Linked DNA regions of Homo sapiens: region 1 is linked to region 2. Evidence: fine-mapped expression QTL. A gene starts in region 2. The other region holds a variant in brackets. All regions are shown on one strand. Distances are from middle to middle.

Region 1 (4,399 bases), 180 kb after region 2:
CCCTCTGCTTCACCTTCTGTAGTACGGTTTCAGTCTCACTGCTTTATGCACACTGTTTCTATTAAAGCCACGGGTGCCTTCCACAAACACATACCTGTTCTTCAACTTCTCAGCTATAAAATGAGAAATGAGCTGATGGTTGTAACAGAAGGGGAGTAGCTAAGAAAGAGAATTAACTTCCTCAGTATGTGGAATATTAAGCACTGAAAGGTGATTTTTTTTTTTTTTTTTGCAAGAGTATAAGATTCCCCTGGAAGTCTCAATAAAAATGTCATCATTATTTTAAGTTGACTCTTGAAGAAAGACAAAGGCTGGGAGACATATGCCCACCTAGAATTTCAGAACTTATAGTTGTTATATTGAGAGTTTGGGGGCAATATGATAGTTCCCAAACATTATTGATTTGTAAAAAAGACACACTGAGTGATCTATAGATGCATAATCCACAAGAACTGAGTCATTCTTGACTTTTAAAAATCTTCACATGTACATGTACACGAACCACCACCCCAACAAAGAAAAATATAGTTGTTTCAGACTACATCTGTCTTTTAAGATAAACATACAGACACAAATGTAACCAGTTGCAAGTTTCTTATTTTAATACTTGAGGGGTGAATCCCATGGAGAAGGTTAAACAGACAGCTGTTTATTCAATAGTTCATGTTAACGTGGGGTGTCAGAGACACTGAATTGCTATAACATCATGATGACAGGTAAACATATCAAAAGTTTGAATCAGAGAAGCAGAGTCATGAAGACAAAGAAGAAAGGAAAGGTAATTATAGTTATCTTTTTAAACATTAATAATATTGCTATTAATATTTGCCATTACTTTCAACGGCAAAAATCACAATTACTTTTGTACCAACTTAATAAAAGATGACTAAGAGCTCATAGCCATCTTTTATTAGTAACATTAAAAAAGAACTATAATTTATAGACTATACTTTATAAGGTAACCTATATATCAAGACTTTACATACATTAGTTAAAATTTTTAGTATTTAAGATTAATATTATTTATTCTAATATGAAATAAGGAAATTAAGACTTAGAGAGTTTTAGAAGCCTAGCAAGATTTTATTCCTAGAATATGAAATGGACAGAATTTTAACAAACTTTGCCCGCAAAGCTTGTATTTATCACACTGCATTGTGAAGCATCCATGCTAGCTTATAATCATGACATGTAATGAGATACAGTTCTTTAAAACAAGCCATTAAGATGCTGACAGGATTTCTATGATGGAGATAAGCAAGAAAGTTATGGATGAACAAAGAAGGATCATAACATACAGTGCTCGTGACATAATCACTCTTGACCTAACACAGCCAATGAGTCCTTTTGAGCAGCAGAAGAGAGTAGACTCTAAATTTTCAAGAGTGAGGAAGACCAATTCAGATAAAGGAAGTGGAAGAAAGACTACACAAAAGGCATATGTAAAATAGGAGAGTTTAGTCATATAACTCCAAGAATGTTGGAATGGTTTAGTAAAACATACATGTAGAAATATGTTAACTGTAAGACCAAAGTAATACACAATAGATAACCCTTGAAAACCTTTAATGCAGTCTTAAGAGTATGATTTTATTCCATGCAATAGATTCACTGAAGGATTTTAGCCATAGGCACGACATAACGACATCTGCATTTTAGGAAAAACCTGACTTTAAGGTTGAGAGTGAATTGGGAAGATGTTTACAGCAAAGGCAGAGAGATGTAATGAAACAGTACAGGTGAGAGAAGTTGGATGTTTGACATCGGGGGTTGAAAACAGGAGTGGATATAACAGCTATGTGTTAAAAATGCAGTTAACAGGAATTGGCGAATGGGGAAAAGGGATGAGAGATAAGAATAAGTAAAGATAGTTTCCGAGTTTCTAGATTGGGTTTGGTAGATGGATAGTAATGTAATTCATAAAAATATTGCCAAAGGTAGGTAGGACAGATTTAAGAAGGATAGATGAATTAATTTAGTTTTGAATATGTTGAGGCTATAGTATAGCTATTCAGGAAGCAAATGGAAAGAATGATTTGTGTTTCAGAAAGATATTTGACTTAGAAACACAGATTTGAAAGAAATAAAAGTAGATAGATAAAACTATGAAAGTGGATGAGGTCAATTCAGAGATAATGTACTGAATAGGGAAAAGAGGAGAGGATGGATCCCTGGAATCAACAACATAATGAGATGGAGAAAATGGTGGGACTGAGGCTATAGGAGAAACAACTCTAGAGTGCCACTTCACGGAAACTGAGGGAGGCTAATTTCAAAAACAACAGTTTAATTTACTGTGTTCAGTAACGCCAAGAGGCTAATAAAGAGAACCCTTTGAAGTTGGCAGCTTCAAAACATAAGCAACTGAATGGTTAAAGCTTATGCATCTCTCCCAAAACAGTGTATGTTTACTCTTATCTCTAAAAAAACTAGACCTATTCTAATTCAGACATGTGGATGTCTCACCTGTAAAAAAATTTATCT[C/T]CACCAAAGATTTTCTTTCTTGTATCTAACTTTATTCCCTTTGGTTGCAGTTTTAGTCACTTTATTCTTCTCATGAAGATGGTAGACAATGTGATCTGGACTATGTGATAATGTACCAGAAATGCAGAAATCATGAATTTGGATTCTTTTTTCTCTTTCCTCCTCAAGTCATTGATAATGGCGCTTAGCAATTCCAGCTGGAGGCTACCCCAGCCTTCTTTTTTCCTGGTAGGAATTCCGGGTTTAGAGGAAAGCCAGCACTGGATCGCACTGCCCCTGGGCATCCTTTACCTCCTTGCTCTAGTGGGCAATGTTACCATTCTCTTCATCATCTGGATGGACCCATCCTTGCACCAACCTATGTACCTCTTCCTGTCCATGCTAGCTGCCATCGACCTGGTTGTGGCCTCCTCCACTGCACCCAAAGCCCTTGCAGTGCTCCTGGTTCGTGCCCAAGAGATTGGTTACACTGTCTGCCTGATCCAGATGTTCTTCACCCATGCATTCTCCTCCATGGAGTCAGGGGTACTTGTGGCCATGGCTCTGGATCGCTATGTAGCCATTTGTCACCCCTTGCACCATTCCACGATCCTGCATCCAGGGGTCATAGGGCACATCGGAATGGTGGTGCTGGTGCGGGGATTACTACTCCTCATCCCCTTCCTCATTCTGTTGCGAAAACTTATCTTCTGCCAAGCCACCATCATAGGCCATGCCTATTGTGAACATATGGCTGTTGTGAAACTTGCCTGCTCAGAAACCACAGTCAATCGAGCTTATGGGCTGACTGTGGCCTTGCTTGTGGTTGGGCTGGATGTCCTGGCCATTGGTGTTTCCTATGCCCACATTCTCCAGGCAGTGCTGAAGGTACCAGGAAATGAGGCCCGACTTAAGGCGTTTAGCACATGTGGCTCTCATGTTTGTGTCATCCTGGTCTTCTATATCCCGGGAATGTTCTCCTTCCTCACTCACCGCTTTGGTCATCATGTACCCCATCACGTCCATGTTCTTCTGGCCATACTGTATCGCCTTGTGCCACCTGCACTCAATCCTCTTGTCTATGGGGTGAAGACCCAGAAGATCCACCAGTGAGTGCTCAGGGTGTTTACACTAAAGGATTGACCTGAATATATTCTCACTGTTTCCTTCAGAGGCACCTGCCAGGACATAGCCAGGAACTCATGGCTGGTGCAGATTATATGGATGGGGTAATTTTCACAGCGAGCAGTCCTTCTAGTGTCACATATCACAGCAAAGAATATCCAGAGGCACCTGGCTTCACAGCTTATTGGGATGTATCTGGATACCTGAATTTGTGAATAGTTTTTCCATTCTTTCTTTTGCTCCTGATTCCAACATTTTCCTACTCCTGTGTCAGAGAGACTTGAGGACAGTAGAAATGGATGACAGCTCTGGATGTGTCATCTTTCCTGCCATTGCCCAGTGATAGACTATGCAACATTCTCTGGAATGGCAATGGGAAGTCCCACCCTCAGCTTGGTTTTAGGTTTAGAGTGTCTTCCAAACCTCTAAGTTTGTGCTGGCAGCACATTTACATGGTACAGCCATTCAGCTAAATGCTAGTGTTAACCCTTTAGATGAACCTTTTCGTGTCTTTTAGGATGACTTAGATTCCTTTACTTTTCTGCCACATCAAAATGCATAAATTAGGACATTTCTAAAATATTTATTATGCATATTATAAATGACTTTTTTCTTGCATTTACTCTTTTCTTTAAGGGATGAGTTTCTCCGCTTGTTCAGCCTGGTCCTTTCTTCACGATACTAGTTTTTTCTCAATTATTTGTAGATTTTTACTCTTATTTGTTTGTAGATGAGAATTAAATGGTTGGGTCCTCGCTGTGAGTTTTCTCAGAGCCTGTAAAGGTCACTGCTCTTGTGCCCCAATTGTAGG
Region 2 (4,332 bases):
GCGGTTGACGTGCTGCAGCTTCATGTACTTCTTCACCAGTGCATGATCTGGGTAGAAAGCCGCATCTGCAGTGTTCATGTTGTAGATGACAGAGCTCATGCTACCCATGATGGTGGCGAAACCCATGACGGCCAGCAGGAAGTCGCCCACCATGAAGAGGTACTCTTCTTCCCTGGCTGGCGGCGGTGTATCGCCCACTGTAGTCAGTATCAGCGTGGAGAAGTAAAAGCTATAGAGGTACTGGCGCCGCAGGCGCTCAAAGCCAGGCTGCGCGGGGTCCGGGTACACCCATGCGTCACGCCCGAAGCCCAGGTACCGGGATAGGGCAAAGTATAGGCAGCTGTTCCAATGGATGACGACAAAAATGTAAAGCATCAGCTTGGCAATGCGAAAGGCATTTGGGTAAGCTGTGCGGGTCTCTGTGCGGTCGAAGGCCTCGAAGAGGCGGGGCGCGCGGAGAAAGCGGTTCAGCCTCAGGGTGGGTGTGTGCGGGCCCAGCCGCACGTAGACCACATCTGTGGGCATCAGGGAAGCCAGGTCCAAGAAGAAACTCCAGGTGCGAACGTAGCGACTCGAGATCCTACCCTTGTCCACCACCAGGATGCCCTGTTCCAAGAATCCTGGGGAGAGGGAGCCGGTAGGAAGCGGACCTGCTGTAGTCAAGCTTGGGCTGAGCATGAGCTGCCCAGGGCAGGCCAGGGAGACTGTCTGAAGGACAGAGTGGAGCCAGGCATAACTCTGCTCCCGGCTTTCCGGGGTGAGCACTGGGATGCTGTCAGGCATAGAGGCACGCGAAGGTGCTACCACGGTGGGGGTGCCTTTCTTGTTACTTCTTAAGTGGCTATCTTTAGGAAGGGAATGTGGGACAAAGGGTCATTCCTAGAAGCCCACTGACCTGTGTGGAAGCGCACCACCATGTCTAGTAGGTATAGCAGGTCACTCGTGTAGTCCAGCACCAACCAGGCCACCAGATAACCGTGCTGCAAGTCGGGGAAGCAGGCTCTGCAGGGCAGGGTTAAGCATGATTGAATTAAGGGCACCCTCTGTGTGCGAGGCGTCTCCCCAGGGCCCTTAACCCTCTGCCTCAGGCCCTCCCATGGGAATTGCTCCTCCTGCCCCACCAAGGGTCTGCCCTTCTCCTTGACCTCTCTTTAGTCCTCTTTTTGGCTTCCAGCCCCTCCCTTAGCACCGCTGCCATACCTGCACACGAGGATGATGAGGTTATACATGACTGGGAAGACCATTGTGTTCAGCCACCAGTAGTAGTAATCCCCAGATGGGTCCAGGACAGGCAGCAACTTCCTGTAAGAAAGAAAGTCTTGCTTCATTTATTCACCAGGCATTCAAAGCTGTAGTTGTGACTGGGGCACCAAGAGGAATGAGGAGAGATCCCACACAAGGGACCAGGACTTCTCACCTGGCCTTGGATGGGGCTGGGGGACTGGACTCTGTTGTCTTCACTTTGGTGTCCTGGCTCATGGTTCTGTGGTCTGGTGCTGGGGTGTGAGATGTCCACACCCTCTCTGCCTGTAGGGGACTTCTGGAGTTGGGCACTAGTGCCTGACTGCCTGAAGGAGGCTGCTGTTGGGCTTCTGCTGTGACTTCTTTGTCTTTGGGGCTCTTAGCAACACAACCAGAGCTAGCGCTACTGAAGGGGTGGAGACAGTCTAGCTCTAGCACTCTGCCCTGTCTCCCAGGGCCTGGGCTTACACCTGCCCAGCTAAACACCTCTAATGAGATCCCTGGAGAAGGTGGGGGTGCATGCCTCAGAGGGAAGCCTGAGTCTTGTCTCTGTTTTCCTCCTCCCCTCTTTCCACAGCAACTGAGCTACATAGGTGTCCTCTGGGTCAGAAGACCTCAGTTTTAGTGTAGGATCAAACACTCTGTTTTATCTTTGCAAATTCTATTTGGGCCTCACTATTTATTTATTTAACAACTATTACTGAATGGCTTATCTATGTCAGGTGCTAAACTATTCTCCAGGGACAAAGAGATGCCTCTCACATGAGAAGTGAGCTCTATTTTTGTAACCTACTTCCTACCCTTATCTACCTCCACATACGCCTTCCCCCATCACACCATTCTCATAGGTAGTGTGATAGGGGCCATCCTATGGTGCTTTTGTCCTCATATCCTTCTTGTGACTTCTAGTGCCTGATCCTACCAACCATTCCATGTGTTTTATGGTCCCCAATCTTTCAACTTTTCTCTTTTTGTGAACCTGCTTCAATATCTCCTATATCAAAACAAACAAAAACCCTACAATTTCTCCCTCAACCTGATGTTCCTTTCACTGCTATCATCTTTCTCAGTCAACAAATCAAAATCAGAACACCCATAGGCAGGTGTTCTGTGTGCCAGGCCAATATTGTGCTAAATACTAGGAATTGGAGATGAATAAGACACGCTCCCCCTTCTCCAGAAGCTCACAGTCTGCTAGGTGAAATAGTCAGGCCAGCAGGTAATTACACATGAGGTAACTAAACAGCAGCAGTCATTGCCAGGCTGCTGATGAGTACTCTGTTAGCTGGATACACGGAAGGCTATTATAGTACACATGAAGTGGCCCTACAGAGCCTGGGTTCTGCAGGATGAATAGGAGTTGGGTACAGAGATGGGAGGGTGAAGAGCACTAGAGGCAGAATGCACAGAGTGGGCAAAGGCATAGAGATATCAAAAAGCGTGGGTGACTGGGCAAATATCAATTGGCTTATTTTAGAGGGCCTAGCGGGTAGTGGTGAGAGATGAGGTTGAATGATAGACAGAGGCCAGCTCAGGAGGAGTTCTGTCAGCCATGTTATAAAGCTTGGATTTTACCCAACGGCAATAGAGAACCTGTGAAGAGTTTTTCACAGTTCAGTGATAAAATCAGGTTTGTGTTTTTGGAGTGTGTTTTAGAAGAAAAACCTGTGGTCCCTAATTAAATTTTGAAAAACTCTCTTTTCCCATGGCTTCTTAATTTCTTTTTGCAAAGTATTACGCTTGTTAAAATAAAAAGACAACATTCAAAGTAATGCAACAAAATGAATAAAATCCTTTGTAATGCCATAATGTCTTGGTTTGCTGTTTCTTTTTAGTGTCTTTCATAAGCTCCTCTGTCTATTCCTTCTATGATGGTGTTTTTTTTTTTTCTTGGATTCTGTTCTAGGCTTTCTACTTTTGCCATCCTCCTAACTCTGTCTGATTGACGTCAGTCACCCACAGGACTTCCTTTCTCATATAGTGGCTCCCGAGAACTCTCCCTGAGTTTCAGTTATCTATATGACTAACTGCTCACTGGATGTTCCTACTTGGGTATCCCGCGGTCACCTTCAACCCATTGGGTCTATAACTAAGCTCATTATCTTCCTCCACTTTTTCTTCTAGAATTCCTATCTATGCCCTTTCAGCAAAAAAACCTATGACAAGCATTTATTACTATTTACTGTATAATGTTGTGGCAGTTAAAAAAAATGGTCACAAATTCTTCGACACCACTCCCTTGTGATAGTTTGTATAGCAGGAGTGATGTTGTGTGACTTCTAAGGCTAGATCATAAAAGGCCATGCAGCTTCCCTCTGGTTCTCTTGGAATGCGTGTTGTCTGGTAGCTCCCTCTCAGAATGTTCCCTCTTGGAACCTACCCATCACATTGTGAGAAGTTCTGTTTGACAGTTTGCCCAATGAGTTCAGCTTTTTCATTATCCCAGCCCAGGAATTAGATGTGTGACTGAAGAAGCCTCCAGATGCTTCCAGCCACCAGCCTCAAACCACCTCTAGATGTTCAAGCTTTACAAATAAGGCCCCAGACATCATGGAATAGAGACAAGCCATTCCTGTTGCATCTCGTCCAAATTCCCAGAATTTGTGCACATAATAAAATGGCTATTGTTTTTATGACACTAAGTTTGGGTTGGTTTGTCACATAGCATAGTAACCAGAACAAACAAACACAGAGAAAGGTGTACAATCCTTAAGTATATAGCTTAATACATTTTCACAAAGTGAACACACCCATATAACCAAGCACTCAGATCAAGAAACAGAACATCACCAGTGCCTCAGGAGCCCCACTCTGCCCCTTTCAGTCAATGTTTTTCCAAGAATAATCACTATCCTGAATTCTAATATCACAGTTTAGTTTTACCTGTTTTTGAATTTATATAAACTAAGCATTAGTTTTTAATTCTTCCTCTTATTTTCCTCTTATATCCACCCAATCATCAAACCATGGTGATCTACCTTCTAAAAATCCACATGTCCACTTCTCTGCATTTTTGCTACTCTAGTTTGGGCCTTATCAGCTTGTTTGGTCTTTTGCAAAGTTACTGTATAACTATCAATCTATGTATAA

Evidence for each region. PIP is the estimated chance that this variant, and not a neighbour inherited with it, causes the effect. A credible set is the group of variants that fine-mapping cannot tell apart.
Region 1: its variant is the best candidate, but not a certain one, in a credible set for the expression of CNGA4 in whole blood (INTERVAL, PIP 0.86).

The regions. Positions count from the first base shown.
Region 1 is chr11:6,056,493-6,060,891 of GRCh38, reverse strand. It overlaps the pseudogene OR52L2P. Among named protein-coding and RNA genes, the nearest start is that of OR56A1, 28 kb to the right of the region's middle. The variant C/T (reference allele first, on the strand shown) is at 2,485.
Region 2 is chr11:6,236,354-6,240,685 of GRCh38, reverse strand. CNGA4 (cyclic nucleotide gated channel subunit alpha 4) reads right to left here and starts at 1,597. Exons shown (of 6, transcript NM_001037329.4): 1 at 1,418-1,597; 2 at 1,201-1,302; 3 at 896-1,002; 4 at 1-620. The coding sequence starts at 1,479.